Regions from separate parts of the Homo sapiens genome. Here region 2 is linked to region 1. Evidence: fine-mapped expression QTL. A gene starts in region 1. The other region holds a variant in brackets. All regions are shown on one strand. Distances are from middle to middle. Region 1 holds the start of ZSWIM5 (zinc finger SWIM-type containing 5). Region 2 overlaps ZSWIM5 (zinc finger SWIM-type containing 5).

The links.
Region 2: its variant is fine-mapped to the expression of ZSWIM5 in whole blood (TOPMed, PIP above 0.99).

What each region holds. Positions count from the first base shown.
Region 1 is chr1:45,198,788-45,214,947 of GRCh38, forward strand. ZSWIM5 (zinc finger SWIM-type containing 5) reads right to left here and starts at 7,818. Exons shown (of 14, transcript NM_020883.2): 1 at 6,969-7,818. The coding sequence starts at 7,563. RefSeq lists silencers at 5,096-5,296, 7,265-7,424, 7,625-8,044 and enhancers at 6,396-7,296, 7,297-8,196.
Region 2 is chr1:45,175,224-45,191,383 of GRCh38, forward strand. All of the region lies in intron 1 of ZSWIM5 (zinc finger SWIM-type containing 5), which reads right to left. Among named protein-coding and RNA genes, the nearest start is that of ZSWIM5, 23 kb to the right of the region's middle. The variant A/G (reference allele first, on the strand shown) is at 6,779.

The DNA.
Region 1 (16,160 bases):
CCTTCATTTCTTTAGGGATGTGCTAAGTGGCTTGTATCATTGCTTACAAAAGTTCTTGAACTTGATGGAGTTTATGTTGAGAAATAAAGTTTATACTTTTAATTTTTATCCTTTAATTCCATTTTTCCATGAGCTTTTGAAATCCCCTTATACACTTTCATTTATCTCAGGTAAATACCTAAGAGTAGGATTGCTGAATCTTTTGCTTAAGTATATGATTAGCTATAAAGGACATTGTTTTCCAATGTAGCTGCACCATTTTGCATTCATGCCATACATTACATACCAGCAATGTATGAGAGTTCCAGTTACTCCATATACTTGTCAGCATTTGGTACAGTCTTTTTTTTTTCTTTAACCATTTTAGTGTGTGTGTAATGTAGGTATTTCCTTGAATTTTAATTTGTATTTCTCTAAGGACTAAAGTATACAAAGTATGCAAACAACTGCTGTTAAGGCAAGAAAACCACTAGGCAGAAGGGTACTTCAGCTTTTGCTTCAATAGTCTTTTTTTTTTTTTTTTCTTTTTGAGACGGAGTCTCACTCTGTCGCCCAGGCTGGAGTGCAGTGGCACGATCTTGGCTCACTGCAACCTCTGCCTCCCGGCTTCAAGCAATTCTCCTGCCTCAACCTCCTGAGTAGCTGGGACTACAGGCATACGCCACCACACCTGGCTAATATTTTTGTATTTTTAGTAGAGACGTGGTTTCACCATGTTGGCCAGGATGGTCTTGATCTCCTGACCTCATGATCCACCCGCCTCGGCCTACCAAAGTGCTGGGAGTGAGCCACCACGCCTGGCCTCAATAGTCTACTTTTAAATAAGGTAACTATGTTATACTCCCCTAAATACCACATTCATCACTCCATTATAAGGAACAGGCAAATGACCAAAAAACATGTATCCAAGGAACTTTTCAAAAACAGGCTTCAGAAACTCTCAGAGTCAAATATTCACTGTTTATAACTTCCTCCCTACCTAAGGAAGGCAACGTAATGTAGTCCTTAGTTTAGGCTTTGATGCCCAACCTAACTTTGTACTCTAAGATAGGAAAATGCAAAGTACTACAGAAAGACTTCCACCAAAAACAGGTAAACAATTATTTACTGAGCCTTACACGTAATAAGTGACTAAACGTTAATTCAATGACTGAACCAAGAACAAGTTAATAATAAGCTTCAAGGATAATTTTTATCTATGTAATGCTTTAAAAATCAGAAGCATCCAGAAATTGAGCCACAAATGCCAATACATCTTTTAGGCTTCAGTTACATATAAATCAATTAAGAGAGATGTCATACTACACAAATATAAAAAATGATATGACAATGTACTCATTCATTCAATAAACATTTACTGAGCACCAACTTAGGACAAACCACATTATACATCCTAAGGGGGAGAACAATTACACTGAAAACCAAAAATTAATCAGTTGACTATATATGATTACAAAAACTATCGCAGAGTAATTTAGCGTATAATCACATAATACTACAGCTAATATTTAAATAAGTATGATTTTCTTAGTCTACTAGCTCCATGATAGGCTAAAAGTGTCCAAGAAGCATGCTGCCTATGTTAGAAAGAAATAAGCCTATAAATAAACCACAAGGTAAAAAAATTCACATAAAAATTATCTGGAATAAATTATTATCTATTTCTAATATCAAGCACTAATTGTAAACCATAGTAATTTAGGGTTTGGAAACAGACATTAAAACACTGTTCATATGCTTTCAAGGTTATCCATTTCTAAAGCTGAGTTATAAATGGTGTGCATGAAAAAAAACCCACAGTAATCTATTCATTCATATATGTATACCATGAGTGCTATATCACACAGTCATCATTTTTTATCAAGAATGACAATTTTAACCTTTAAATAACCACTTATTTGTCAAAAATATTCCACATGTATTAAGATTAAATAATCATGCAAATTGAATCAAGCAAGTCTAAATAATGCTTACCTAATAAAATTAATGTGGTGATTTCCTAACTTAAGCCATACTTAATGTAATAAAGTTTAAAATTCACATGAAACTCAGATATGCAACAAGAAACAAGTATGAGAAGCTGTTATGGGCTGAATTATGTCACCCCCCAAAAAATATGCTGAAGTCCTAACCCCCAATACCTCAGAACATAACCTCAGTCCCTCATGATGTGACTTTGGGAATAGGGTTGTTGTGTATGTGATTGAGATGAGGTCATACTGGAGTAGGGTGAGCCCCTAATCCAATATGACCGGTGTCCTTATAAGAAGGCCATGTGAAAACAGACACACACAGGGAGAATGCCACGTGACCACAAAATCAGAGATTGGAATTTTGCAGCTCCAAGTCAAAGAATGCCAAAGACAGCCAACAAACCACCAGAAGCTAGCAAGAGGCAACAAAGGATTCCCCTGTAGGTTGCAGAAGGAGCATAGCACTGCCAACACCTTGATTTTGGATTTCTAGCCTCCAGAACTCTGAGACAATACATTTGTGTGGTTTTAAGCCAATCCAGTTTGTGATACTTTGTTACAGCAGCCATAGGAAACTAATACAGCATTTTTACAGTAATATATATGTTTCTCTTGTACATTATATCAATGCATTGATTTTTAAAAATTTTATTTTCTACGGTATCATATAGTAAACTTGACTTTTTTGGTGTATAGTTCCATACATTTTAACACATGTATATATTCATATAACCCTCACCATAATAGATTACTGACAGTTAATGTCTTGTTTTTTAATTGCTATTATTGAAACAAGAGAAATAAAATTGTCTCCCATAGGCATAAATTTCCAGCCTTTTCTATAATATATTTTTAAAATTCCTAAAATAAAGATAACCTCTAAAATAAAATTCACTCTCTTTAGTTTATCCATCATCTTTAAAATCCAAAGCTCTATCCTTGAGAAAGTCACCTTTAGAAAAATTCATTTAAAGCTTTCATTTGAAGAAATTGATAAATCACCATTCGTCACACAAAATAGATGGTTAAACACAGAAGATACACCTAAGTTGTAACACTCATACTACTTAATGCTATCAGTTTATTATATGCACAAATCTGGAGTTTTCCCCATATATTCCAATACCACTCATACTCAAAATTCAGGTCTCTCTCTGTTTTACAACACTGAGAAATCCATTCTTAACGTTCAGTCATTCAACAAGCACTTATTGAACATTAAAATGTGTGCATATGTGATGTGTTAGGGTGGAGGGAGAGAACTCATTGATCAGAAAAAAAAAAGATAATGTGATTTAAAACTTGAAAAATTTCTATGCTAAAAAGCACACCCGCTTAAAGGAATGCAGCTGCCTTCTGTGATGGAATACCTTAAATATCAATAAAGTTATTTTTCTCCACATGAAATTTTATTATAATTTTATTCATTCTAACTCACATATGCCACAGTTTTTTCAATGTAGATATCTTTTGTTCCCCCAAACAATATAGATTAAAACAAATTACATATAAAAATCAACAAACTGTAATACTTGTTACTGATAAATTTCATAAAAGTTATACTACAGAAAAATTTCACAGACCTGTTTATTGATGATATACAAGTGTACACAATTTTAAACTTACTACTTGATGTTTAAGTTATAGATAACTTCCTGAAATGGGCCACTTTTTATATTTCCATTATTGACTTTGTAATTGTACCTCTTCCACATAAGGTAATACTTAGCATTCTGGTTCTAGTCTTGAAGACTTCAAGAACAAATCATGTACTTATTAAAAAATGTGTAGACTAAAACTATGGGGTTTTGTTGAAGTCACCTGTCAAAATCTACTTAAAATTTCTGGATAAATACGTACATAACTAAGATGTACCAGGCGCAGAAGGCCCCTGCATGCCTTTAGCCAATTTTTAAAACTAAATATCCAAGTAAATATAACATTTCTGTGTTTAAGTGAGAAAAACTGTTAATTTTTTTTCCTTCAATCAATTCAGATTTTCCTGAGAAAAAGCAAAGCTTCTTTAAGTTTTACCAAATACAAAGAAATCAATTTAAAATACAGTGGATAGCAAAAGGGTCAAAATGTTAAAACCGTTAGTAAATTATAGGTGTCTTATTCTTATGCCATCTGCAGACTCCTGAATAAGTATTTTCCCAAAGTTTATACTACTACTATATCCATGGGCTTCTGAAACAAGTTAAAAATGCAGATGCTGAAAACATTCATATGTTTTCAATAGAGTTCATACTCTAACCTTTACAATACTGAGATCAGACTGTAAGTCTATTGACATAGCTTTAAACTTACAGACATCCCTGAAGAGACTAATTTGCAATTTTCCCCTTTTAAAAGGAATACTACTTCTGATGCAGTACTTACATAAAAGAAATGTATCCTTTGAGCATAGCTGGAAAAGTTTTAGTTTTGATTTAAAATCTGAAGTATCCAATTTTTAACCAGAATTCATGACTTCCCATTACCAGATTTTGTGTGGAAAGTAATTAGAAATTACAGAATTTAATCTACCTACTCTTTCCACAAGTTTTTGTTTGTTTTTAATTTATTTGCCTTGAAGGCTTTTTTGTTTGTGCTTTCTTTTTTCATTTAAATTCCCTTTTTCATTAAATTCCCTTATGACTCTTTTTCTTAAAAAGATGTTGTCACAGAAATACCCCAACTTTCTGTTCTTCCTAAAGCATCGGCCTTCAGTAACTTCCCAAATCTGAGGTTCTATCGTTTAGAAACAGTAAGGAAATATGTAGAATTCTTAATTAGCATCACTTAGTAATTAATTGAGTTTGAAGTGCAGTTATAAACTGAAAAACACGATTACTATCTTGGTATATACGAATCACTTCCTTACTCATCTCTTGGCAATACTTTTAGAAAGCCTACTCTCTAGATTAAGTCATTTACTTATAACTTTAAGTTTAGGAGATGGGGGATGAGTCTCTATTAAAGGTGGTTCATACCAAAATACAGAACTCAAAAAGATGCAGAACAGGCTATCCTTCTCTCCTATACTTATTAACCTAAATTAAGGTCAGAATAATAAAAATTACACAGCTCGTGGTTCTCAAGTAGCATAAACTTAAAGTGATAAATTTATTCACCGGTCTTCGTCTTTGAAATCCAAAGTCAATCAGAAAACATGTTTGTTTATATGTGTCTTTTCTCAAGTCAATCAGAAAACATGTTTGTTTATATGTGTCTTCTGAAACTACCATAAGAGAGCCTATAACTCCAGAACCACATTAACTTTCATATTATAAAGGGGAAATATCTGATTTAAACATGATCTAGATTACCCAAAATATCCTATTTCATTTGGAAAGTGACACTTTAGTTACTTTAAAAATAGACACCTCTTTAAAACTCTTCCTCTCTTTTATTTGTTCCCTCAAGTTTGAAAATTCTTCCTCATCCATCTCTTACTATAAAATGACCACTTAAATTGATCCTTTTCCATTTAAAATATTTGAAACAAGAATCTTAAAAGTTAAATAAATGATCGAAACTCAGAAAAATTAAAATTTACAGACTAATAGGAAAATGATTGTATTTATTTTCATGTTTTCAGTGTTTCAGTATTAAAGCTGTACACCTTAATTACATATTTATTCAAGTCACTCTTTCAAAAATATACACAAATAAAGGACTAACCTCTTTCAAATAAACAAAACTTGCTCAAGCCACTGTCACTATATTCTGGCACAGGATAAATTTACATTTCACATTTGCAAAACAAGTTGTGGTATGCTGTTGTTTTGGTTAGAAACACAGGAATCAATGATTCTCAATAACCAGAAGCAGATTACTTTATATGAAACAGCACGATTCAAAGAAAAACATTTTTCAAATGTTTTCTCCAGGTTTTACCTGGAGAGCTAGATGTCTGGGGTTTGTGTCTTTCTGTGCTTGTTTAATTCTAAAAACAACCTCCCTTCAACTCCTTTCAAAAATCAGTATTTTCTTCAATTAATACGAGCATATAGTGTACAATAAAACGCATAAAGATATGTACTTCCAGAATGCCATAATAATCCAAATAGAAAAAAATTCGTGTTTTAATTTTCCACATAGCAAAGTCAATGTTAATCATTTTTTTATCCTTCTCCTTAACCATTCCACAAATCAGAAGCACTGTATTTATATATTTAATAAGATTAACAAACTGACTAGAAGCTCCGGAGGAGTAAAGGAAGAAATCATTTGTATAATATATTTTTCCATAACAAAAAGATAAAAGCAAATAGGACTTGTTAAATGAGAAGCTTTTGAAAAACCCAGCGTGACCAGCTTTTGATTTACCCCAGTCTGACAAGGAAGAGAGACCCCACCCCCACTCCAGATTGTATGGCTTTTTTTTTTTTTTTCCTTGGGTGGGGGTGTGGAGGAGAAGCTGTCACATTTCCATCTTCGGTTATTGTTAGTCCGCAGCCTAGATTCCCAAGCATCACCGGTCCAGGGGAAAAATCCTAACGCAGACAATTAAAACTGTCTGAAACATGCAGTATTTTGTTGGGGCTTTTTTCCCAGTGTTAATTTCATCGAGACTCAATCGGCTAGGGCTATAGATTGCCTCTGACAGTCTGTCCCTCAAACGCTCCCTCTAAAACCGCTTGTTCCAGATTTACTAACAATCCTCTCCTCTCCAAACTTAAATTAGGACAACACATTTCTGAAATTATTACATCCAAAAAGTCATACCTCCCCATTCTCTTTGCCTTGGTGTGGGGAATAGAAAGAGTGAAGAAGAGAGATCTATTCACTCTTCAAACAAAAAGAAATTGGGGTAGAGGGTCAGTGGAGGAAAGAGCAGTGGTGGACCTGAGTGAAAGGTTGAAAAAAGTTTTTGTGACTTGTTCGTCCTTCGGCAGGGGTACAGGAGTTGGGCAGAAGGCCGGGGTCTCGGCCCCAGGGCTCGGGCCGAGAAGAGGCACCCGCGGAAGAGGAGGCTGAGGACCCGAGAACGCCTGGACGAGCACATACCGACTTGCAGCACGTTCTCCACGGAGCCGCTGTCCAGCAGACGGATGCCCCGGCGGAACGGGAGCCCCTCGCCACCGCAGCCGGCCGCGCCGGCCCCTGCGCCCAGCCCGGGGGATGCCCCAGCCGCGACGCCCCCGGGGGCGGAGCCGGCCGGAGCGGCGGCCCCGGGGGGTGGCTGCGGCCCCTCCTCGGCCGGCGAAGCCCCCGCGGCGCCGCCAGCAGCGCCGGCGCCGGGGCCGCCCCGGTACTGGAAGCTGGAGTACATGCAGATCTCCCGCTCATTCCGCGGGAAGGACCAGTAGACGATGCGGCGCTGCACGGGCTCCGGGATCCGCTCGAAGCGCTCCTCCACCCGTTCGTATGCCCACTTTTCCGCCACCGTCTTGGCGGCGCAGTCCAGTAAGGAATCCGGCTGCAGGTGGGGGCGGGCCCCGAGGACCAGGCAGCTGCTGCCGACGCCCCCTGCCCCTCCGCCGGCTGCCCCAGGCGAACCGCGAGGGTGATGAGCCTGCGGGCTGGGCCACGAACACTGCCGCTTAGCCGGAGAGACCGGTGACGGCGAGAGCAGCTCCTCTCGCTCACCTCCGTCCGCCATTGCTGGGGACTGACTGACTGACTGAGGCGGCGGCGGCTGCTCGGGCTGCGGCGGAGACCCTGGCCACGGCCACGCGCCCCGCGCAAGCGCCCAGCGGTGGCGCCGAGGGGGGCGGGGCGAGAGAACCCGCGAGCCAGCCGGCCCGAGTGGGGAACCGCGGCCGGGCCCGGGAGCGCGCCGCGAGGGCAGACGCGGGCGGCCTGCAGGGTAGCGTGAGGCGGCGCGCGGTGTCCTGGCCGCCGCGGACGCGAAGACAGGCGGGAGCGAGCGCGGGCCCGCGGCGCGCTCCAGGCGCAAACAGCCTAGAACGCGAGCCGAGCGCTCTCGCGGATCCGGCGACCGCGGAGGGGAGAGGAGCGCCGGACGCTCTCGCACGCCCGCCCGCCCGCCCGCGCACCTCCAACCCACCTGCCGCCGGCCAGACAGGAATGGACTGTGTGACTGAATGAAATGGCGGGGCCATAAGCCATCCAAGGAGCCGCCTCCGTGAAGTTATAGGCTCGCGGGGTACAAGGAGAAAAAAACAATCCAGCTCCAACGGTACTGATGTGACAGGAGGTTGTCACAGCAGAGCGGAAGATCTGGCAGAAAGACGCTGGGAAAGAAGACACTAGGGGAAAACATCAGAAAGTTCGGATGATGAAAACTCACCTCACGCCACAACAATGTAGGATAAAGCCGGCGGTCACCCCACCCCAGAGTGGGACAAAGTCGCACCACCCCTTGACAATGGGGCATCAAGATCTTATCGCCACGGGGGTTGCATCCTGGTGGGGTCTTTTGGAGGGTTTAGCACCTTGCATCCTAGAATACAAAACACTTTTGCGTGTTTTTTGGTAGAATTCTCTGATCCCCTACCTCCAATCTGAATTAGGTCTTTCATGTTTTCCTCACTTGGCTCAGTCTTCTACACCTTTACATAGTTGTATTTTTATATATTTGTTTAATGTCTGACTGTCAACTCCATGAGAGTGAGAATCATGTCTATTTCCTTCACTATAATTTATCCTCTGCCTGGCACATAGTGGGTGCTCAAGAATGGCAGCTTCATCACTAACTCCATAAACAACACGCAATTGTAAGTTACTGTTTCTTGCTCGATCAAGAAAGCTCAGATTATTTCAGAATTTGCTGACAAACTAATCTCTACAACTTTAAAACGTTCCAAGAACTGTATTAAAAGAGTTTCTATAGTTGAGTTTGCCCTTCAAAGTAAGAGAGATTTAGAGTGTAGGATAAAATAAGAGTAAGAAGAGAGTAAATGATTGGAGACAGGCTGGAGCCACAGTTTGGTTTTGCTGTAATCTCAGAATTAAAGAGCACAGGCAGAATTGGGTGTGAATCACACTTGCTGTGTGTGATGCTATTCATGATTCTATTAAATCATTTGCAAAAGGGAGCTAGTAATAATGCTTCTACACATAAATGTTGTAAGAATTAGAAATAATTCACTTTAAAAAAAGTTTTTTTAGAGACAGGATCTCACTCTGATGTCCAGCCCGGAGTGCAGTGGGGTGATCACTGCAACCTCAAACTCTTGGACTCAAACTATCCTTCCATCTCAGCCTCCAGAATAACTAGGACAACAGATGCACAGCACCACACCCAGCTAATTCTAAATTTTTGTAGAGGGGCGGTCTCCCTATGTTGCCCAGGCTGGCTGGAATTAGAAGTAATTCAAATTGTTTGCTTATTCAGTGTAGTAGGTACTCAATAAGTATCTGTTTAGGCCAGATGCAGTGGCGCATGCCTGTAATCCCAAGGCTTTGGGAGGCCAAAGTGGAGGATCCCTTGAGGCCAGGAGTTCTAGACCAGCCTGGGCAACAGAGCAGACTGGAGACCCCATCTCTACACAAGAAATAAAAAATAGCAGGGATTAGTGGCCTACACCCTGTAGTCCTAGCTACCCTGAAGGCTGATGTAGGAGGATTGATTGAGCCCAGGAGTTCAAGGTTACAGTAAGCTATGATCATGCCACTGCACTCTAGCCCAGGCAACAGAGCAAGACCCTCTCTAAAAAAACAAAAAAAGAAAGAAAAAGAAATCTGTTTATATTGGTAAATGGATTTATATCTGTAAATAACTATAAATAGATTACTGCAAAATAGCATAATCCCTACTCCACCTTGAATCTGGTACCACATTTACAGGCTTCCATAACACACACTATTTTCTTTCCTATAATTTATCAGAGTTTTTTGGGAGAACGAATATTCCTTTAATGCCTGTCCCCCTAACTAGACTATGAGCTGTGGAAGGGCAGGAACCATTTCCATGTAAGGGCCTATTTCTACCACCTGCCAAAATGCCTACACATAGAAGATGTTCAGAAAATATTTGCACTTTGAATCAATGAATATGTTATTCTGATTTAATCAGTTACTGTCTTTTTTTTTTTTTTTTTTTTTTTTGAGATGCAGTCTCACTCTGTCACACCCAGGTTGGAGTGCAGTGGCACAATCTTGGCTCACTGCAACTTCCGCCTCCTGGGTTCAAGTGATTCTCTTGCCTCAGCCTCCCAAGTAGCTGGGTCTACAGGCGTGTATGCCACCATGCCCAGCTAATTTTTGTATTTTTAGTAGAGATGGGGTTTTACCACATTGACCAGGCTGGTCTCAAACTCCGGCTTCAAGTGATCTGCCCGCTTCAGCCTCCCAAAGTGCTGGGATTACAAGTGTGAGCCATGGCGCCTAGCCTATATTTATGTGTTTATTTGCTTAATGTCTGTTTCCCAAAATAGACTATAAGCTCCATGTTAGGCGGGCGTGGTGGCTCACACCTGTAATTCCAACACTTTGGGAGGCTGAGGTGGGTGGATCACTTGAGGCCAGGAGTTCGAGACAAGCCTGGTCAACATGGTGAAACTCCACCTCTACCAAAAATACAAAAATTAGCTGGGCATGATGGTGGGCATCTGTAATCCCAGCTACTCGGGAGGCTGAGGCAGGAGAATTGCTTGAACCTAGGAGGCGGAGTTGCACTGAGCCGAGATTATACCACTGCCAGCCTGGGAGACAGAGTGAGACTGTGTCTCAAAAACATAAATAAAAAATAAAAAATAAGCACATAAATATATAAATACAGATGGTAATAACACAGCAAATAAGACATTTGGGAATATGCAATATGTGGTTGTGAATAACAAGAATGCTAGATTAATTGGACCATAAGTTTGTGGTGAGAAATAGTGGGAAAAGACTGCAAGAGAGACAGGAGACATTGTGAAAAGCTTTTAAAAGCATTGTAAAATGCTAACTTGAGGAATCTGCATTTTCTTAGGTTGGTGGAGGGAAGCTAATAAAGGTATTTTGAGCAGGACAGTTATATGATAAAAGGCAGTGTTTTAGGAATATTAACCAGACAGAAATATGTAGGATGAATCAGGAGAAAGATAAAGTCTGGAGGCAAAAGATGAGTTTGGAGATAAACCAACAGTGTGGGAAGGAGGTAATAAAGGCTTGTAGAAGGCATTGGACGAAAAGATATCTAGACATCGGGCAAAAAGGGGCTGAAATCTGGCCTGCACTCCATTTGCCCATCCCTGCACCAACCAGGTTGCATCTGGGTGCCTCTTTCTCATTCTCACCAAGTGACCATATGGGCTAGCAATGGCTCTGGGCCTGTGTTACCTCTCTCTGTTTGATCCCTCTTCTCTGATGAGAGAATTGACATATTTCAAGGAGACTGTGGGAGTCTAAAGATACTTATTTTACAGCATTGCAATCCCCAGGGTGAAAACACAAATACCAAAAATCAATAACCAGGAAGAATACCTCACATCTTAATACAACTCTTTTGATGTCAGGAAAATTTTGATCCAACCTTAGAAATAAATCTTTAAATTTGCATTTGTGAAACATCCTCAACCCCTTTGCATGGAATGAAATGATGAGATGAAGGTGAAGGATAGAGTGAGACTCAGAGATGAGGATTTAGGTATCATTTGACAAGCAAACTGTATGCAACCCAGTCATTTATTTAATAAAATTTATTTTGGCTTCTATTTCAAAATGTAGAAGATAGACACCTGTGCTTCCTGATAACACTTTGTTTGGGTATATCATAAACACTGAATGAAGTGGGAATGAGAAATATTTAGGAATTAGAAAGGAAGATCATGATTTTTTTTTTCTTTTTTTTCAGACAGTGTCTGGCTCTGTTATTCAGGCTGGAGTGCAGTGGTACAATCTTGGCTCACTAAAACCTCTGCTTCCTAGGCTCAAGCGATCCTACCACCTCAGCCTCCCAAGTAGCTGGAACCACAGGCATTCGCCACCACACTTGTAGAGACAAGGTCTTCCTATATTGCCCAGGCTGGTCTCAAACTCCTGGGCTCAAGCAGTCCTCCCATCTTGGCCTCCCAAAGTGCTGGGATTACAGATATGAGCTACCATGCCTGGCTAGAAGACCATGATTTGAATTGATTGGACCTATTACCCAACTCTGGTTTTTTTTTTTTTTTTTTTTTTGATACAGAGTTTCACTCTTGTTGCCCAGGCTGGAGTGCAGTGATGCAATCTCAGCTCACTGCAACCCCCACCCCTTGAGTTCAAGCAATTCTCCTGCCTCAGCCTCCTGAGTAGCTGGGATTACAGGTGCCCGCCACCATGCCTGGCTAATTTTTGTATTTTTAGTAGAGACAGGGTTTCACCATGTTGGCCAGGCTGGTCTTGAACTCCAGACCTTGGGTGATCCACCCACCTCAGCCTCCCAAAGTATTGGGATTACAGGTGTAAGCCACTGTGTCCAGTCAACTGCTATTTTTCTTGTGGTAGACTTCGTGGTTCTCTTCCTTCAGTTATGGAGCAGCCATAAAATTAGAGGACTTTAGCTCCAAGGGTAAGTGCTAACTTGTCTGATCAACTGGCATAATTCCATATCTCATTCTAAAGTGATTCATTCAGGGATAGGCAGAGATAAGTCAATCAGTGTATGGCATTTCCCTGGTCGTAGGGATTGGTTCAGGAATGAGCATAACCTATTGGGCCAATAAGATATGTGGTTTGCTAGCAACTTCCAGGAAAGAAGAAAGTTCTTACTCTTTTAAGAGAGCTTACAAAAGCAATTCTCTTAGTGCCTCGACCCAGAAAAGGAGGTTGTTGGTAGCATGCTGTGAATACAAAGGTAAGCCAGGCTTGGGTTGAAGCTGACATACCAAAAGACTTATGGGAAAGATGAAAAAAAAATGAGATTTCTGATGGCATTGCTAAACAGCTGAATCAAAACCTGAAGCCCTCTATCAACATCCAGTTACATGAACCAATAAATCTCCTTTATTATTTTTTCAATACTTTATTGAGGCGGAATTTTCATGCATTAAAATGCACAAATCGCCGGGGGCGGTGGCTCACACCTGTAATCCCAGCACTTTGGGAGGCCGAGGTGGACAGATCATGAGGTCAGTAGTTCGAGACCAGCCTGGCCAGCATGGTGAAACCCCGTCTCTACTAAAAATACAAAAGTTAGCTGGGCATGGTGGCATGCGCCTGTAATCCCAGCTACTCAGGAGAATCGCTTGAACCCAGGAGGCGGAGGTTATAGTGAGTCGAGATCGTGCCACTGCACTCCAGCCTGGGCGACAGACAGACTCCGTCTCAAAAAAAAAAAAAAAAAAAAAAGCACCAATCTTTTTTTTTTTGAGTACTTTTAATTAAAAGGCACAATTCTCAGGTGTACAGCTTGATGATGTTTTCCCCCTGAGTCTGCTTTCTAGGAAGACTTTTTACAAATGTATACACCCATGAGGTCTTTACATAGAAAAAATGTAGAATGTTTCTGTCATTCCAGAAAAGTCCCTTATGTCCCTTTCAGCTTGATACCCACCTCCCAGAGATACCAATTATTCATTTAAATGGAATAATATGGCATAAATTATTTTATGTCTGGTTTATTATTAAGCATAATAATAATTGAGAGTCACCTATGTTATTCTCATGACAGTTTGTTCTGTTTTTATACTTAGTAGTATTCCACTATATAAATGTACCACATGTTGTCTATTCTCCCTCTAATGGACATTTAGGGTGTGAATTAGTCAAGATGGGATTAGATGTGCAAGAGATTTATTAGACGTTATGCTTAATAGGGAACATGGAGAGGAAGCTAGAAGCTAGGGAAGACTGTAAGAGACATCAGATCTCAATGCAGATGAAAGAGAAAAGAAAGGAAGGAAGGTTGAATGGGGGGGTCTTAGAGTGCAGTATAGTTCTAAGAAAGTTAGGCAAGACCAAATGTGCCCATCAGAGGAGTCCTGCGCCTTCTAGGAATGGACCTGTCTTAGTACTCCTTCTCATTGTACTAAATCACTGGGTGGCAGCAGCCTGTGGAAAGCATTTATCCAGAGGTAAATGCAGGGATAGATTTTGGAGCACAGCAGCTAAAGTGGTCAGTAAAGTATGCCTCCCACAGCCAGAAATCTGAGAAGAGCATTTTCATGGCTGCCACAGTTCACTTCTTTTACCTCACCAATTTACTTCTTCATGCAAATCAGGGAGCAGATCTTCCACAGTTCTCTTCCTGAGGGGAAACTCAGAAGAGGATAGTTAATGGGATGAGCTCTATTCCCTATTGTTACAACTGGTCTTGGGGCCACAACTGGAACTCATCTTTTTCTTCTTCCACTATCCATTCTGAATTCCCCTCACCCTCCGTTATCACCTCAGCGGGTCTTGGAACTTGCTTAGAGATGTGATCCAAACCCTCAGTCCTTAGAGTTCTGAGCTCTCAGCAATCATACCTTTATAGGCCAGGATTATTCCATGTGTCTGTTCACAGTTACATTGGGGCAGGGAGGCAATCAGGAAGATCTCTTCAGTTCTACACGTATTCCTTCCTGCTCACACTGTGTAAGAGGAATACTGCCTCCTGCTTAAGGGTCAATGACTCCTGCCAGTATGCTAACTCCTTTTCTCACCTGCTAGCCCCTGGGCACAAGGAGTCTCTGATGCCCTGGCAGCAGCCGTAAGTTAGGGTGCAATGGATTCGAACCTTTAGTCCTGTAGAACCTAGAGTTGTGGGGACAGGAAGCACAGAATCTCCCAGAAGTTCATTGTAAATGATGATAAATAATGAGGCCACTCTTGTCTCTACTCCTTGGTTTCTCATTTCTGTTGGAGCCACAACACTATATAGAGGTGCCTAATTCATTGCATACTCATCATCTTGAAGGATGCCACCCCATCCCTTCAAAATGTGGTCTCTGAACTAGGCATATCAAATGTGTCTATAGAAGGGCATTTAAGCATTTTATAAGGCTGGTTGCTTCTATGCCTGTAGAAGGTCTTTCCAGCATTTTATGAGGCTGGCTGGATATTGTGTTATATGATATGACTAGGGTATTCAATGGTGATGCCAGATATCTTAATCCATTTTGTGCTGCAATAACAGAATACCACAGACTGGGTAATTTACAAAGAATGTAAGTTTATTCAACACATGATTTGGAGGCTGGTAAGTCCAAGAGCATGGCACCAACATCTAGTGAGGGCCTTTGTGCTGTGTTTTCCCACAATGGAAGAAAGTGAGCCTGTGAGACAGAGGATGGGAGCCAAACATCATCCTTTTATCAGGAACCCACTCCTGTGATAACTAACCTACTCTCATGATAATGACGGCAGGACCCTCATGACCTAATCACCTCTTAAAGGTCCTGACTGTCAATGCTGTTATAATGGCAATTAAATTTCAACATGAGTTTTAGAAGGGACATTCACACTATAGTACCAGATGACTCTCAAACACCTGTTGCTGTGAAGTGGGTTCCCTGGTTGGATGCTATTCCTTGTTGAATTCTATGCCTGTGGATCAGGCATTTCATAAGTCCTTGGGTACTGGGGCTATTTGAGGTCTGTAGGCAGGAAAGGCAAACTCATATGCAGGTATCTCTCCTTTTGAAAACAAACTCTTGACCCTTTTAGAATGAAAGGGACTGGTGTGCTGTGTGATACAGTTGGCCTGTAGCAGGAACAATGCTATATCAGGAGGTTAGTTGTTCATTTTGGTTGCCAACAGGTTGGACATTCAAGGCAGCAATAGCTAGATAAATCTTGATAGATGGGAATGCCTGCTGTTGAGCCTATATGTAATTTCCACTTATGCCACCATGAGTTCTCTGTCATGTCCCCATCATACCAGTCCTGGGGCAGCCAGCTAGTTAGCACCAGGCTAGTTAGCAATACCTGGCCAAGTCATTTTTGTCTGCTTGACTGTTCAATGCCTCTTTCATGTTGGATGCTTTTAGGTGGCCATTAATATGTGACACAAAAATCCTTTCCCTTCCAGGTCCCTGACCAGAGGGCCCAAGCCCTCTGGTCATTGCCTTCTGGTCACTGCCCAGGAATCTATATATATATATTCACCTCTCTAGCCACTTTCACCTGCTCACAAAGCAGCTAGCCAGATGCACTGCTCCCAGCTCTACTCATTTGGAAAAGTTTTCCTTTCCGCCATTTTTCAGGGCCACTGCTGAATATGACTATAATGCCATTACTGTCCATTTTTGGCTTGTATCCACATTCCAAACAGGCCTACCCATAAACCAAGCTCAGGCTTTTTCTTCCTTTTTCAGCGCTCACATCAGACTTACCTTCTCTCATATA
Region 2 (16,160 bases), 24 kb before region 1:
TAATATCATAGAAGTGGAGCCATGTTCTTATTGTTTCCTATCAAATGGCACACAATTTTGATTTCTCCCATCACTGGTGAGGTTAACTTTGCTCATTTGATCACAGTAGTGTTTGCCTGGATTCCTCACTTTAAAGTTACCTTTTTCCCCTTATAATTAAAGTATCTCATGGGAACCATATTGACATTATGCCAATATACTCATCAAATTTTCAACTTACTCTTTCTAAAAATATTTTATTTTGGAGACAGGGTTTCATTCTGTCGCCCAAGCTGCAGTGCAGTGGAGCAATCCCAGCTCACTGCAGCCTTAACCTTCTGGGCCCAAGCGATCCTCCCACCTCAGCCTCCTAAAGTAGCTGAGACCACAGGCATGCACCACCATGCCCGGCTAATTTTTTAAAATTTTTGTAGAGACGGTGTTTTGCCATGTTGCCCAGGCTGGTCTCAAACTCCTGGGCTCATGTGATCTTCCCTCCTCAGCCTCCCGAAGTGCTGGGATTATAGGCATGAACCATGGCACCTGGCCTTTAAAAAAAAAAAACCATTGACACAATGAACTCATGGGTTTCTATTTCATTCAATGGGTTGGTTATATCCATTATTATCATTATTTTGACACTCAATTCATCCCATATTTGGCTAATGGGAATCTCTTCAAAGCTGGCTTTTGTATCCTTTTTGATGTGTTGCTATAATTCTTTAAGAACCTCCCTGCTTTCTGGCACAAGAACATGTTCAAGGCTCATTTGATACTTTCTCTGCCTCACCCCTAAATTCAGCCATTTCTCCAAGGAGGCTTTGTTCCTTTTATCGGAGAAAAGTACTTGGAAACCAAGATATGGGCATTAGGTGTGCTTATTGCTATTGGGATATTACTGCTCTAAGGCCCTCTCAGTTAACTGAATGCCATATATATATATAATATATATTATATATATATTCCAATATATACTAAAAACCATGAGTTCACGTGGGTATCTCCAATTACAATCCAAAACCCAGAGTTCATTCACCTTTTCTCCCTGGTCTTTATCTTTTCTTATCTTATTTTATTTTTCAGACGGAGTCTTGCTTGTTGCCCAGGCTGGAGTGCTATGGCACAATCTTGGCTCACTGCCACCCCCACCTCCTGGGTTCAAGCGATTCTCCTGCCTCAGTCTCCTGAGTAGCTGAGACTACAGGTGCATGCCACCACACCGAGCTAATTTTTCTATTTTTTAGTAGAGACGGGGTTTCGTCATGTTGGCCAGGCTGGTCTTGAACTCATGACCTCAGGTGATCCACCCGCCTTGGCCTCCCAAAGTGTTGGGATTACAGGCATGAGCCACCGCGCCCGGCCTGGTCTACATTTTAGCTACTTTTTCTGATAGTGAGAAATTTGGCTCCTGTTATCCTTAATTGATTTACTTAGTTGATCAATATCTATAAATAACCAATCTTTCATTGCCACCACAGCTCCTCCCTGCCAATAAGGACATTCTTCTCACTGTGCTCAAGCTCAAAAAACCTGCACCTACTGCTGCCACCCCCTGCTATGCCCACTTCACCCCATCTGAACACTAACACCCTATGGCTCTACACTCCCCTTCACCCCTATACAAAAGTCATCCTCAACCCTTTCAGACTCTGACATCTCAAATTATATCCCCCTTCATGTGGATACCCTCCTCACCCCACTTTGGCTCTAGCACCCCATGCTAGGCCACTGCTCCAGTTGGGCTCCAATATACCCTTTCAGGCCACTGCTACTATCCCTTCTTCCCATCTCACTTCCTTTTCTCTTGCTTCTCCCAGGTTTGGACTAAAGTTTTCAGGAAGGGAAGTCAGAAGAAAAGGGAATGATTAAGGATTCAGGAACTAGAGAGAGGAGGGAAGAGAAGAGCAGTATCATTGTATGACACCTCATAATTAGCTATTTTGCTATACAGTGATTATGTTTCTAAAACGTATGCAGAAAATAAGGAATAAACACTAAAGAAAATAATAGGAAAGAAGAAAAGAATATGACACTGAAAAAGAAAAAAATTTCTTAAATGTACTGAATGCTTGTTCTTATTTATTTTACACTTCCAATCATTAAGAGTTGTTATAGACTCTAACAAGGCTATGAACTATGGCCAACCCCCTTTTCCACATTGGAACTGAAAAACCTACACCATATACACAGGGAATTTAAGGTACTTAAGTTTGCAGGTTATACAGAGTGGTAACAGCAATAGAGCAATTTCTACAATTCCTACAACCCAAACTGTGAAATCAATAATGGTGAAAGTTACAGAGGGGTATGCAAAATATACCTTTAATAGCAAAATATTTCCCAGGTCTGAATCTCATGAAATGAAAGATGGGCATAAAAGGGGATTCTCTCTGCTGCTTTATAAGACAATTCGGGGAGATTGAGCAATCAGTTGCTACTTGATACCAAGCAGTAACCAGCTCTATGACACATCCTTATGTTGCCTTACCCTCCTTCCCTGTCTCATTTCATTTTCTCTCACTCTTGCTTCCCTGGGATCATATTCTTTAATAACACAATAGCACATTAAAAAGCATTTCCCAGTCTAATGCAAGCAGAAAAATCCCTTAATACAATGCATTCTATGGCACAAACAACACTGAGTTTTGTGACTTGATAAGGACCAAGGATTCCAGATTGGAAAGGAAGATAAAAGTTTATCTCTATTTGAGTAATAAATTCATTCCACAAGGGTGTTGGCCAGGCTGGTCTCAAACTCCTGATCTCAGGTGATCTGCCTGCCTTGGCCTCACAAAGTGCTGGGATTACAGGCGTGAACCACTACACCCGGCCTTATGTGATTTTATCTAAGGGACTTAAGCATCCTCAGGTCCTAGGGGGTTGTGAAACCAAAACCCCACGGATAGCAAGGGACAACTGTATCTTCAAATTAGACAAATGGCGCCGGGCACAGTGGCTCACACCTGTAATCCCAGCACTTTCGGAGGCTGAGGCAAGCGGATCACCTGAGGTCAGCAGTTGGAGACCAGCCTGGCCAACAGGCTGAAACCCTGTCTTTGCAGAAATGAAGGGATAGCTGGGTGTGGTGGCGCATGCCTGTGGTACCACCTACTCGACCGACTGAGGCTGGAGAGTCGCTTGAACCTGGGAGGTGGAGGATGCAGTGGGCCAGGATGGCGCCACCACACTCCACCCTGGGTGATAGAGTGAGACTCCGTCTCAGAAACAAAACAAAACAAAAATTAGACAAATGCTACATTAATGTTTGGGTGGTCAGATTCTACTTTGAAGTCTGAAGTTTGCAGATATGCCTATAGATTTTTGGAGTTTACCACTTTCCTATTCTGTATCATTAATGTAATATCTTAAATTACTATATATTTGACCATTTTTCTGTATTTAGTAAGAAATTTGCATTTCTGATTTGATATAACAAAAGTTTTAATGTAATTTATATTAGATTTTGCATTTTTTATCACTGTTATACTTTAACGTAAATGACTGATTTAATTGTATTAGTATTGTGAACAATCATGTGGAATGTTTTGAGACAGAGTACTCTATTGGTGAATATAATTTTATGGCTTTTTTCACTTAGTAAGAACCTTTCTATCAGTGTGGAAAACTAAGAAAACTGCTCTCTGCTGTATAATCTGGCATTCATTGTAGATTAAAGCTTATTTTTCTGTGAATAAAACATTCAATAAGATACTATTTAAAATTAAAATAAATAAATAAATGAATGAATTCCACAAGGTTAGGGGTACAAGATCAACATACAAAAATCAGTTATATTTCTATCTATATACACTAGCAACAAACAATTAAAAAATGAAATAAAGGAAACAATTCCATTTATGATAGCATGAAAAAGAAAAAAATATCTTAGGAGTAAATCCAACCAAGGAAAATAAGTCATTCTACCAAAAAGACACATACGTGTACCTGTATATTCATTACAGCACTATTCAAATTAGCAAAAACATAGAATCAGCTCAGGTGCCCACCAACAGTGGGTTGAATAAAGAAAATGAGGTACATCCCATGGTACATATACACCATGGAATACTACACAGCCATGTACTTCACAAAAACATGGATGCACCTGGAAACCATTATGCTATGTTAATTAATGCAGAAACAGAAATTCAAAGACTAAATGTTCTCACTTACAAGAAGGTGCTAAACACTGGGCATATGTGGTTGTAAAAATGGGAACAACAGACACTGATGAATACAACATAGGGAAGGGAGAGGGTTAGGGTTGAAAAAAAATACCTATTGGGTACTATGCTCACTACCTGGGTAACAGATTCATTCGTACGTACTCCAAACTTCAGCACCGTGAAATATTCCTTTGTAGCAAACCTGCACATGTGCCCCCCCAATTCTAAAATAAAAGTTGAAAAAAGATAAAACTTCAACAAAACATTGTTGAAAGAAATTAAGATCCAATAAATGGGGAGACATCCCATGTTCATGGATCAGAAGATGAGATGTTGTTATGATGGCATGGTAAACAGAATAATGCCCCTCACCAAATATGTCCACACCCTAACATCCAGAACCTGACAAAAGGGACTTTACAGATGTGATTAAGATTCTTCAGATGTAGCAATTATCCTGGATTATCTGAGTGGGTTCAATGTAATCACATAGTCCTTATAAGAGGGAGGCAAGAGGCTTAAAGTCAGAGACAGGAAATGTGACAATGGAAGCAGAGGTTAAAATGATATGGTATAGGGAGGAGCCAAGATGGCCGAATAGGAACAGCTCTGGTCTACAGCTCCCAGTGTGAGCGACACAGAAGACGGGTGATTTCTGCATTTCCATCTGAGGTACCGGGTTCATCTCACTAGGGAGTGCCAGATAGTGGGCACAGGACAGTGGGTGCAGCGCACTGTGCGCCAGCCGAAGCAGGGCGAGGCACTGACTCACTCGGGAAGCCCAAGGGATCAGGGAGTTCCCTTTCCTGGTCAAGGACAGGGGTGACAGACGGCACCTGGAAAATCGGGCCACTCCCACCCGAATACTGCGCTTTTCCGACGGGCTTAGGAAACGGCACACCAGGAGATTATATCCTGCACCTGGCTCGGAGGGTCCTACCCACGGAGTCTCACTGATTGCTAGCACAGCAGTCTGAGATCAAACTGCAAGGCAGCAGCGAGGCTGGGGGAGGGGCGCCTGCCATTGCCCAGGCTTGCTTAGGTAAACAAAGCAGCCGGGAAGCTCCAACTGGGTGGAGCCCACCACAGCTCAAGGAGGCCTGCCTGCCTCTGTAGGCTCCACCTCTGGGGGCAGGGCACAGACAAACAAAAAGACAGCAGTAACCTCTGCAGACTTAAATGTCCCTGTCTGACAGCTTTAAGGAGAGCAGTGGTTCTCCCAGCACGCAGCTGGAGATCTGAGAACGGGCAGACTGCCTCCTCAAGTGGGTCCCTGATCCCTGACCCCCGAGCAGCCTAACTGGGAGGCACCCCCCAGTAGGGGCAGACTGACACCTCACACGGCTGGGTACTCCCCTGAGACAAAGCTTCCAGAGGAACGATCAGACAGCAGCATTCACGGATCACGAAAATCTGCGGTTCTGCAGACACCGCTGCTGATACCCAGGCAAACAGGGTCTGGAGTGGACCTCTAGCAAACTCCAACAGACCTGCAGCTGAGGGTCCTGTCTGTTAGAAGGAAAACTAACAAACAGAAAGGACATCCACACCAAAAACCCATCTGTACATCACCATCATCAAAGACCAAAAGTACATAAAACCACAAAGATGGGGGAAAAACAGAGCAGAAAAACTGGAAACTCTAAAAAGCAGAGCGCCTCTCCTCCTCCAAAGGAACACAGCTCCTCACCAGCAACAGAACAAAGCTGGACGGAGAATGACTTTGACGAGTTGAGAAAAGAAGGCTTCAGATGATCAAACTACTCCGAGCTAAAGGAGGAAATTCAAACCAAAGGCAAAGAAGTTGAAAACCTTGAAAAAAATTTAGACGAATGAATAACTAGAATAACCAATACAGAGAAGTGCTTAAAGGAGCTGATGGAGCTGAAAGCCAAGGCTCAAGAACTACGTGAAGAATGCAGAAGCCTCAGGAGCCGATGCGATCAACTGGAAGAAAGGGTATCAGTGATGGAAGATGAAATGAATGAAATGAAGCGAGAAGGGAAGTTTAGAGAAAAAAGAATAAAAAGAAACAAACAAAGCCTCCAAGAAATATGGGACTATGTGAAAAGACCAAATCTGCATCTGATTGGTATACCTGAAAGGGACAGGGAGAATGGAACCAAGTTGGAAAACACTGTGCAGGATATTATCCAGAACTTCCCCAATCTAGCAAGGCAGGCCAACATTCAGATTCTGGAAATACAGAGAACGCCACAAAGATACTCCTCGAGAAGAGCAACTCCAAGACACATAATTGTCAGATTCACCAAAGTTGAAATGAAGGAAAAAATGTTGAGGGCAGCCAGAGAGAAAGGTCAGGTTACCCACAAAGGGAAGCCCATCAGACTAACAGCTGATTTCTCTGCAGAAACTCTACAAGCCAGAAGAGAGTGGGGGCCAATATTCAACATTCTTAAAGAAAAGAATTTTCAACCCAGAATTTCACATCCAGCCAAACTAAGCTTCATAAGTGAAGGACAAATAAAATACTTTACAGACAAGCAAATGCTGAGAGATTTTGTCACCACCAGGCCTGCCCTACAAGAGCTCCTGAAGGAAGCACTAAACATGGAAAGGCACAACTGGTACCAGCCGCTGCAAAAACATGCCAAAATGTAAAGACCATCGAG[A/G]CTAGGAAGAAGCTGCATCAACTAATGAGCAAAATAACCAGCTAACATCATAATGACAGGATCAAATTCACACATAACAATATTAACTTTAAATGTAAATGGACTAAATGCTCCAATTAAAAGACACAGACTGGGCCGGGCGCGGTGGCTCACGCCTGTAATCCCAGCACTTTGGGAGGCCGAGGCGGGCGGATCACGAGGTCAGGAGATCGAGACCACGGTGAAACCCCGTCTCTACTAAAAATACAAAAAATTAGCCGGGCGCAGTGGCTGGCGCCTGTAGTCCCAGCTACTCGGGAGGCTGAGGCAGGAGAATGGCGTGAACCCAGAAGGCGGAGCTTGCAGTGAGCGGAGATCGCGCCACAGCACTCCCGCCTGGGCGACAGAACGAGACTCCGTCTCAAAAAAACAAACAAACAAACAAACAAACAAACAAAAAGACACAGACTGGCAAATTGGATAAAGAGTCAAGACCCATCAGTGTGCTGTATTCAGGAAACCCATCTCACGTGCAGAGACACACATAGGCTCAAAATAAAAGGATGGAGGAAGATCTGCCAAGCAAATGGAAAACAAAAAAAGGCAGGGGTTGCAATCCTAGTCTCGGATAAAACAGACTTTAAACCAACAAAGATCAAAAGAGACAAAGAAGTCCATTACATAATGGTAAAGGGATCAATTCAACAAGAAGAGCTAACTATCCTAAATATATATGCACCCAATACAGGAGCACCCAGATTCATAAAGCAAGTCCTGAGTGACCTACAAAGAGACTTAGACTCCCACACAATAATAAGGGAGACTTTAACACCCCACTGTCAACATTAGACAGATCAACAAGACAGAAAGTTAACAAGGATACCCAGGAATTGAACTCAGCTCTGCACCAAGCAGACCTAATAGACATCTACAGAACTCTCCACCCCAAATCAACAGAATATACATTTTTTTCAGCACCACACCACACCTATTCCAAAATTGACCACATAGTTGGAAGTAAAGCTCTCCTCAGCAAATGTAAAAGAACAGAAATTATAACAAACTGTCTCTCAGACCACAGTGCAATCAAACTAGAACTCAGGATTAAGAAACTCACTCAAGTCCGCTCAACTACATGGAAACTGAACAACCTGCTCCTGAATGACTACTGGGTACATAACGAAATGAAGGCAGAAATAAAGATGTTCTTTGAAACCAACGAGAACAAAGACACAACATACCAGAATCTCTGGGACACATTCAAAGCAGTGTGTAGAGGGAAATTTATAGCACTAAATGCCCACAAGAGAAAGCAGGAAAGATCCAAAATTGACACCCTAACATCACAATTAAAAGAACTAGAAAAGCAAGAGCAAACACATTCAAAAACTAGCAGAAGGCAAGAAATAACTAAAATCAGAGCAGACCTGAAGGAAATAGAGACCAAAAAAACCCTTCAAAAAATTAATGAATCCAGGAGCTGGTTTTTTGAAAGGATCAACAAAATTGATACACCGCTAGCAAGACTAATAAAGAAAAAAAGAGAGAAGAATCAAATAGGCACAATAAAAAATGATAAAGGGGATATCATCACCGATCCCACAGAAATACAACCTACCATCAGAGAATACTACAAACACCTCTATGCAAATAAACTAGAAAATCTAGAAGAAATGGATAAATTCCTGGAAACATATACTCTCCCAAGACTAAACCAGGAAGAAGTTGAATCTCTGAATAGACCAATAACAGGAGCTGAAATTGTGGCAATAATCAATAGCTTACCAACCAAAAAGAGTCCAGGACCAGATGGATTCACAGCTGAATTCTACCAGAGGTACAAGGATAAACTGGTACCATTCCTTCTGAAACTATTCCAATCAATAGAAAAAGAGGGAATCCTCCCTAACTCATTTTATGAGGCCAGCATCATCCTGATACCAAAGCCGGGCAGAGACACAACCAAAAAAGAAATTTTAGACCAATATCCTTGATGAACATTGATGCAAAAATCCTCAATAAAATACTGGCAAACCGAATCCAGCAGCACATCAAAAAGCTTATCCACCATGATCAAGTGGGCTTCATCCCTGGGATGCAAGGCTGGTTCAATATACACAAATCAATAAATGTAATCCAGCATATAAACAGAACCAAAGATAAAAACCACATGATTATCTCAACAGATGCAGAAAAGGCCTTTGACAAAATTCAACAACCCTTCATGCTAAAAACTCTCAATAAATTAGGTATTGATGGGATGTATCTCAAAATAATAAGAGCTATCTATGACAAACCCACAGCCAATATCATACTGAATGGGCAAAAACTGGAAGCATTCCCTTTGAAAACTGGCACAAGACAGGGATGCCCTCTCTCACCACTCCTATTCAACACAGTGCTGGAAGTTCTGGCCAGGGCAATTAGGCAGGAGAAGGAAATAAAGGGTATTCAATTAGGAAAAGAGGAAGTCAAATTGTCCCTGTTTGCAGATGTCATGATTGTATATCTAGGAAACCCCATTGTCTCAGCCCAAAATCTCCTTAAGCTGATAAGCAACTCCAGCAAAGTCTCAGGATACAAAATCAATGTACAAAAATCACAAGCATTCTTACACACCAATAACAGACAAACAGAGAGCCAAATCATGAGTGAACTCCCATTCACAATTGCTTCAAAGAGAATAAAATACTTAGGTATCCAACTTACAAGGGATGTGAAGGACTTCTTCAAGGAGAACTACCAACCACTGCTCAATGAAATAAAAGAGGATACAAACAAATGGAAGAACATTCCATGCTCATGGGTAGGAAGAATCAATATCATGAAAATGGCCATACTGCCCAAGGTAATTTATAGATTCAATGCCATCCCCATCAAGCTACCAATGACTTTCTTCACAGAATTGGAAAAAACTACTTTAAAGTTCATATGGAACCAAAAAAGAGCCCTCATTGCCAAGTCAATCCTAAGCCAAAAGAACAAAGCTGGAGGCATCATGCTACCTGACTTCAAACTATACTACAAGGCTACAGTAACCAAAACAGAATGGTACTGGTACCAAAACAGAGATATAGATCAATGGAACAGAACAGAGGCCTCAGAAATAACGCCGCATATCTACAACTATCTGATCTTTGACAAACCTGAGAAAAACAAGCAATGGGGAAAGGATTCCCTATTTAATAAACGATGCTGGGAAAACTGGCTAGCCATATGTAGAAAGCTGAAACTGGATCCCTTCCTTACACCTTATACAAAAATTAATTCAAGATGGATTAAAGACTTAAATGTTAGACCTAAAACCATAAAAACCCTAGAAGAAAACCTAGGCATTACCATTCAGGACATAGGCATGGGCAAGGACTTCATGTCTAAAACACCAAAAGCAATGGCAACAAAAGCCAAAATTGACAAATGGGATCTAATTAAACGAAAGAGCTTCTGCACAGCAAAAGAAACTACGATCAGAGTGAACAGGCAACCTACAGAATGGGAGAAAATTTTTGCAACCTACTCATCTGACAAAGGGCTAATATCCAGAATCTACAAAGAACTCAAACAAATTTACAAGAAAAAAAACAAACAACCCCATCAAAAAGTGGGCAAAGGATATGAACAGACACTTCTCAAAAGAAGACATTTATGCAGCCAAAAAACACATGAAAAAATGCTCATCATCACTGGCCATCAGAGAAATGCAAATCAAAACCACAATGAGATACCATCTCACACCAGTTAGAATGGTGATCATTAGAAGTCAGGAAACAACGGGTGCTGGAGAGGATGTGGAGAAATAGGAACACTTTTACACTGTTGGTGGGACTGTAAACTAGTTCAACCATTGTGGAAGACAGTGCGGCAATTCCTCAGGGATCTAGAACTATCAATACCATTTGACCCAGCCATCCCATTACTGGGTATATACCCAAAGGATTGTAAATCATGCTGCTATAAAGACACATGCACACGTATGTTTATTGCGGCATTATTCACAATAGCAAACACTTGGAACCAACCCAAATGTCCAACAATGATAGACTGGATTAAGAAAATGTGGCACATATACACCATGGAATACTATGCAGCCATAAAAAATGATGAGTTCATGTCCTTTGTAGGGACATGGATGAAATTGGAAATCATCATTCTCAGTAAACTATCACAAGGACAAAAAACCAAACACCGCATGTTCTCACTCATAGATGGGAATTGAACAATGAGAACACATGGACACAGGAAGGGGAACATCACACTCTGGGGACTGTTGTGCAGTGGGGGGAGGGGGGAGGGAGAGCATTAGGAGATATACCTAATGCTAAATGACGAGTTAATGGGTGCAGCACACCAGCATGGCACATGTATACATATGTAACTAACCTGCACATTGTGCACATGTACCCTAAAACTTAAAGTATAATAATAATAAAAAAAGAAAAAATAATAATAAAATCCCTTGAACCTCAGGAAAAAAAAAAATGATACGGTATAAAAAAGGAAGAGGCTGTGAGCCACAGAATGCAGATAGCTTCTAGAAATTGGAAAAAGACATGGAAAGAGATTCTTTCCAAGAAAAGCCTCTAGATGGAATACAGCTCTGCCAACAACTTGGTTTTATTTATTTATTTATTTATTTATTTTTTGAGACAGTGTCTCGCTCTGTCACCGAGGCTAGAGTGCAGTGGCATGATCTCGGCTCACTGCAACCTCTGCCTCCCGGGTGCTTCTGCCACCAAGTAGCTGGGATTACAGGCGTGCACCACCATGCCTGGCTAAATTTTTGTATTTTTAGTCAAGACCGGGTTTTGCCATGTTGGCCAGGCTGGTCTCGAACTCCTGGCTTCAAGTGATCTACCTGCCCTAGTCCTCCCAAAGTGTTGGGATTACAGATGTGAGCCATCATACCTGCCCTCAATAACTTGATTTTAGCCCAGAAAACCCCCAGACCTGTAAAATATTAAATATGTGTTGTTTTAAACCACTAAGTTCATGGTAATTTGTTACAGTAGTAGTTTCCTTATAGAACACTAATAGAGATGCCAAAACTTCCAAACTGATCTACGGATTCGATACAATCGCTTTCAAAATCCCAACTAGATTTTTTTTTGCAAAAAATAAACTGATACTAAAATTCATAGGGAAACTCAAGGGAATGAGAATAGCCAAAACAATCTTGAAAAAGAAGAATAAAGTTGGAGGACTCACACTTTGCAATTTCAAAACTTACTAGAGCAAGAGTAATAAAGACAATGTGATACTAACATAAGGATAGACATAAAGATCAATGGAATAGAATTGAGAGTCCTGAAATAAACTCATTTATGGTTAACTGGCTTTCAACAGCATGTCAAGATCATTCAATGGAGAAAGACTAGTCATTTCACCAAATAATGCTGGAAAAAATGGATATCCATATTAAAAAAAAGTTGAAGCCCCTTCTGACATCACAAAAGTCAACTCAAAATGAAACATAAAACAAAATATAAGAGCTAAAACTAGAAAACACTTAGAAGAAAACATGGTAGTAAATCTTCTTGATCTTGGGTTAGGCAATGGTTTCTTAGCTATACTATCAAAAGAAAGAAAGAAAGAAAAAAGCAACCGAGAAAAAAAATAAATTGTACTTCATCAAAATTTAACACTTTTGTGCTTCAAAGGACACTATCAAGAGAGTTAAGACACCTCACAAAATGGGAAAATATATTTGCAAATCACATATCTGATAACGGACTAGTATCTAGAATGAATAAGGAACTGTCACAACTTAAGAATAAAAAAATCCAATTTAAAAATGGGCAAAGGATCTGAATAAACATTTTTTTCCAAAGAAGTTATACAAATGACCAATACACACATGAAAAGATCTCAACATCATTAGTCACCAGAGAAATGCAAATCCAAACCAACCACAATGAGATACTACTTCCGGGCCTCCACCAGGATGGAAATAATAAATAAGATAGATAATAACAAGTATTGGCAAAGATGTGGAGAAATCAGAACACTCATACATTGATAGTAGAATTATAAAATGATGCACTTTGGAAAATAGTTTGGCAGTTCCTCAAAATGTTATACATAGTTACTGCATGATCCAACAATTCTACTCTTAGATGTATACCCAAGAGAAATGAAAACACGTATCCACACAAAAGCTTGTATGCAAATATTCACAGCAGCATTATTCACAATAACCAAAAGGAAAACAACCCAAACATGCAACAACCAATTAATGGATAAACAAAATGTGGTATATCCATACAATGTAATATTATTCACCATTAAAAAGGAATAAAGTACAGATATATGTTACACATTTATGGACCTTTAAAACATTATGCTAAGTGAAAGAAGCCAGTCACAAAAGACTACATATTCTTACTCAATTTATATAAAATGGCTAGAATAAGCAAATCCATAGAGACAGAAAGTAGACTGGTAATTGCTTAGGACTATATGGGATTGGATTGGGGAGTGACAGCTAAAGGATGCAAGGTTCTTCTGAGGTGAGGAAAATCTTCTAAAATTGACTGTGGTGAAGGCAGCCCCTACCTGTGAATATAGTAAAAGCCACTGAATTGTACACTTTAAATGGATGAGTTATACAGTACATGAAGTATATCTCACTAAAGATATTAGGTGGGGAAAACCTGCTGTAAGGTCCCCTCATTCCAGACTACAAAGTCTTCAGGGACACTGCTGGAGACTGGTTTTCAAGGCCTCATTAGGCAGCCTAGACGTCAAAACAGAGAGAAGATAGCCTCCCTAATAAAAACAAAACAAACAAAAACCCTAGCAAGGCTAACCTGTTTTGATGGTGTGCTAGACAGCATATTTATCACACAGATATATAACTGAGGAAAGTTAAAATCCAACTCCTTTTCAATTCTAATCTCCAAGGGAATAGATAAAAGGGAATAGGTACTGAAAAACCATTCACTACTAAATAAAGTTCTAAATAAAACTACACTAACATACTGGATAACATTCTGGTTGAGTGACTTCTTTTGTTGCTAATTACCTTGATGCTATATTAGTAATATTTGCAAGGGACCGGGCACGGTGGCTCACGCCTGTAATCCCAGAAATTTTGAGAGGTTGAGGTGGGCAGATCACCTGAGGTCAGGAGTTCAAGACCAGCCTGACCAACATGGAAAAACTCTGTCTCTACTAATAATACAAAAATTAGCCAGGGATGGTAGTGCACACCTACAATCCCAGCTACTTGGGAGGCTGAGGCAGGAGAATCACTTCAACCCGGGAGGCAGAGGCTGCATTGAGCTGAGATCATGCCACTGCACTCTAGCCTGGTCAACAGACAGAGACTCTGTCTCAAAGAAAATAATAATAATAATAATAATAATATTTGCAAGGGACAACACACAAAGTAATAATCTGAAAACTTTTGCAATTAGTACTTTAATAATATATCAAAGAACCATTAATAAAGCATATTCAACAATACTATATTTGATCTTTAAAACCTACATAATAGGCCAGGCTGGTGACTCACACCTGCAATCCCAGCACTTTGGGAGGCCGAGGTAGGTGGATCACTTGAGCCCAGGAGTTCAGGACCAGTGGGGCAACATGGCAAAACCTTATCTCTACAAAAAACACAAAAAGTTAGCCAGGCATGGCGGCGTGCACCTGCAGTCCCAGCCACTCGGGAGGCTGAGGTGAGGGAATTACCTGAGCCTAGAAGGTAGGGGCTGCAGTAAGCCATGATCTTGTCGCTGCATTCCAGCCTGGGTGACAGAGCTGGATTTCGTCTCAAAAAACAAAACAAAACAAAAACAACCTACATAATTACCTGATTTTAATGTCACATTATGTGCTATCTCAGCAACAGATGGTGTTTACAAAATAAAGCAGATTTATCAACACAAAGTAAAGTAACATCAGGGAGTAGAGGACATTTAGCATCTAATTTACCACTGGGGCATCTCTTGATACTTCCCAGCCCAATGTTGACAGTAAATGAACAAACGCAGTGGGCAAGGCCTGAGAAACGTCACAGTAACTAGGCTCAGGCTTTTCTGTAAAACAGTTGCTGGGTACAGTGGCTCACACCTGTAATCCCAGCACTATGGGAGGCTGAAGCAGGCAGACTGCTTGAACTCAGGAGTTCAAGACCAGCTTGGGCAACATGGAAAAACCCTGTCTCCACAGAAAAAATATAAAAATTAGCCAAATTAGCCAGGCATAGTGGTGCGTGCCTATAGTCCCAGCTACTCGGGAGGCTGAAGTAGGAGGATCACCTGGGCCAGGAAGCTGGAGATTGCAGTGAGCTGAGATCATACCACTGTATTCCAGCCTGGGTGACAGAGCCAGACCCTGTCTCAAAAAAAAACAGTCACCACCCATTCCCAGGTAAACCACTTAGACCACCAGAGATTCTGGCTAAGAATCCATAATGGAGATTAGAGGAGCGGGACAAGATCAGCTGTGTTCTGGGGACTACTTTCAGTGACAGAAGTTGTGATTTGCCTCCTAATTTTACTCTTGTAAGCATCCCCAAAAAAAGAGACCAAACAATCCTGGAGGAGCGGTTCCCTTATAGGGTGAATTTACTCTACGAAATGAATCCAAGAGTCAGAGGAAATGTAGCGCTCGGATCCTTCCGTCAGGACCAAGGCATTTATTCCTCTAACTGCCAGGAGAGTTGGCTGCTGAGAGGTTACAGCTATGTCCTCCTCCATGAGCTGCCCTCAACCAAAGTATCACAGATTGAGTTCTCTGAAAGGAAACACCAAGATAGAATGAGAAATGCAACACACTTACTAGGGATCAACATCTGTGAAAGAACGGCAACAGAAGCAGGACTGGGAAGAGGAAGAAATCAAACTGCAATGCAGGCCTGATAAAAGCTCAGCCAACCAGATTTGGCTCTCTGGAGCAGGTATTGCCTGTCGGAGAGTTCCATGTTCGACTGAAATAGCTGGAATTTTTTTTTTTTTTTTTTTTTTTTTTTTTTTTTTTTTGAGACGGAGTCTCGCTCTTTCGCCCAGGCCGGAGTGCAGTGGCGCTATCTCCTCTCACTGCAAGCTGCGCCTCCCAGGTTCACGCCATTCTCCTGCCTCAGCCTCCCGAGTAGCTGGGACTACAGACGCCCGCCACCGCGCCCGGCTAATTTTTTGTATTTTTAGTAGAGACCTCGTGATCCGCCCGCTCCTTATCCTGACCTCGTGATCCGCCCGCCTCGGCCTCCCAAAGTGCTGGGATTACAGGCGTGAGCCACCGCGCCCGGCCGAAATAGCTGGAGCTTTACGCTCCTACCTTGCTCAGTCATTTGCAGGCTGCCCTTAGAAAAGTATGACCTCAGATGAAGCAGATCTCTGCTGCTGAGACAGCCCGTGAATCAGCTGACAGTTGGAAGCTGTCTGATGAAAGCACTTCCGGC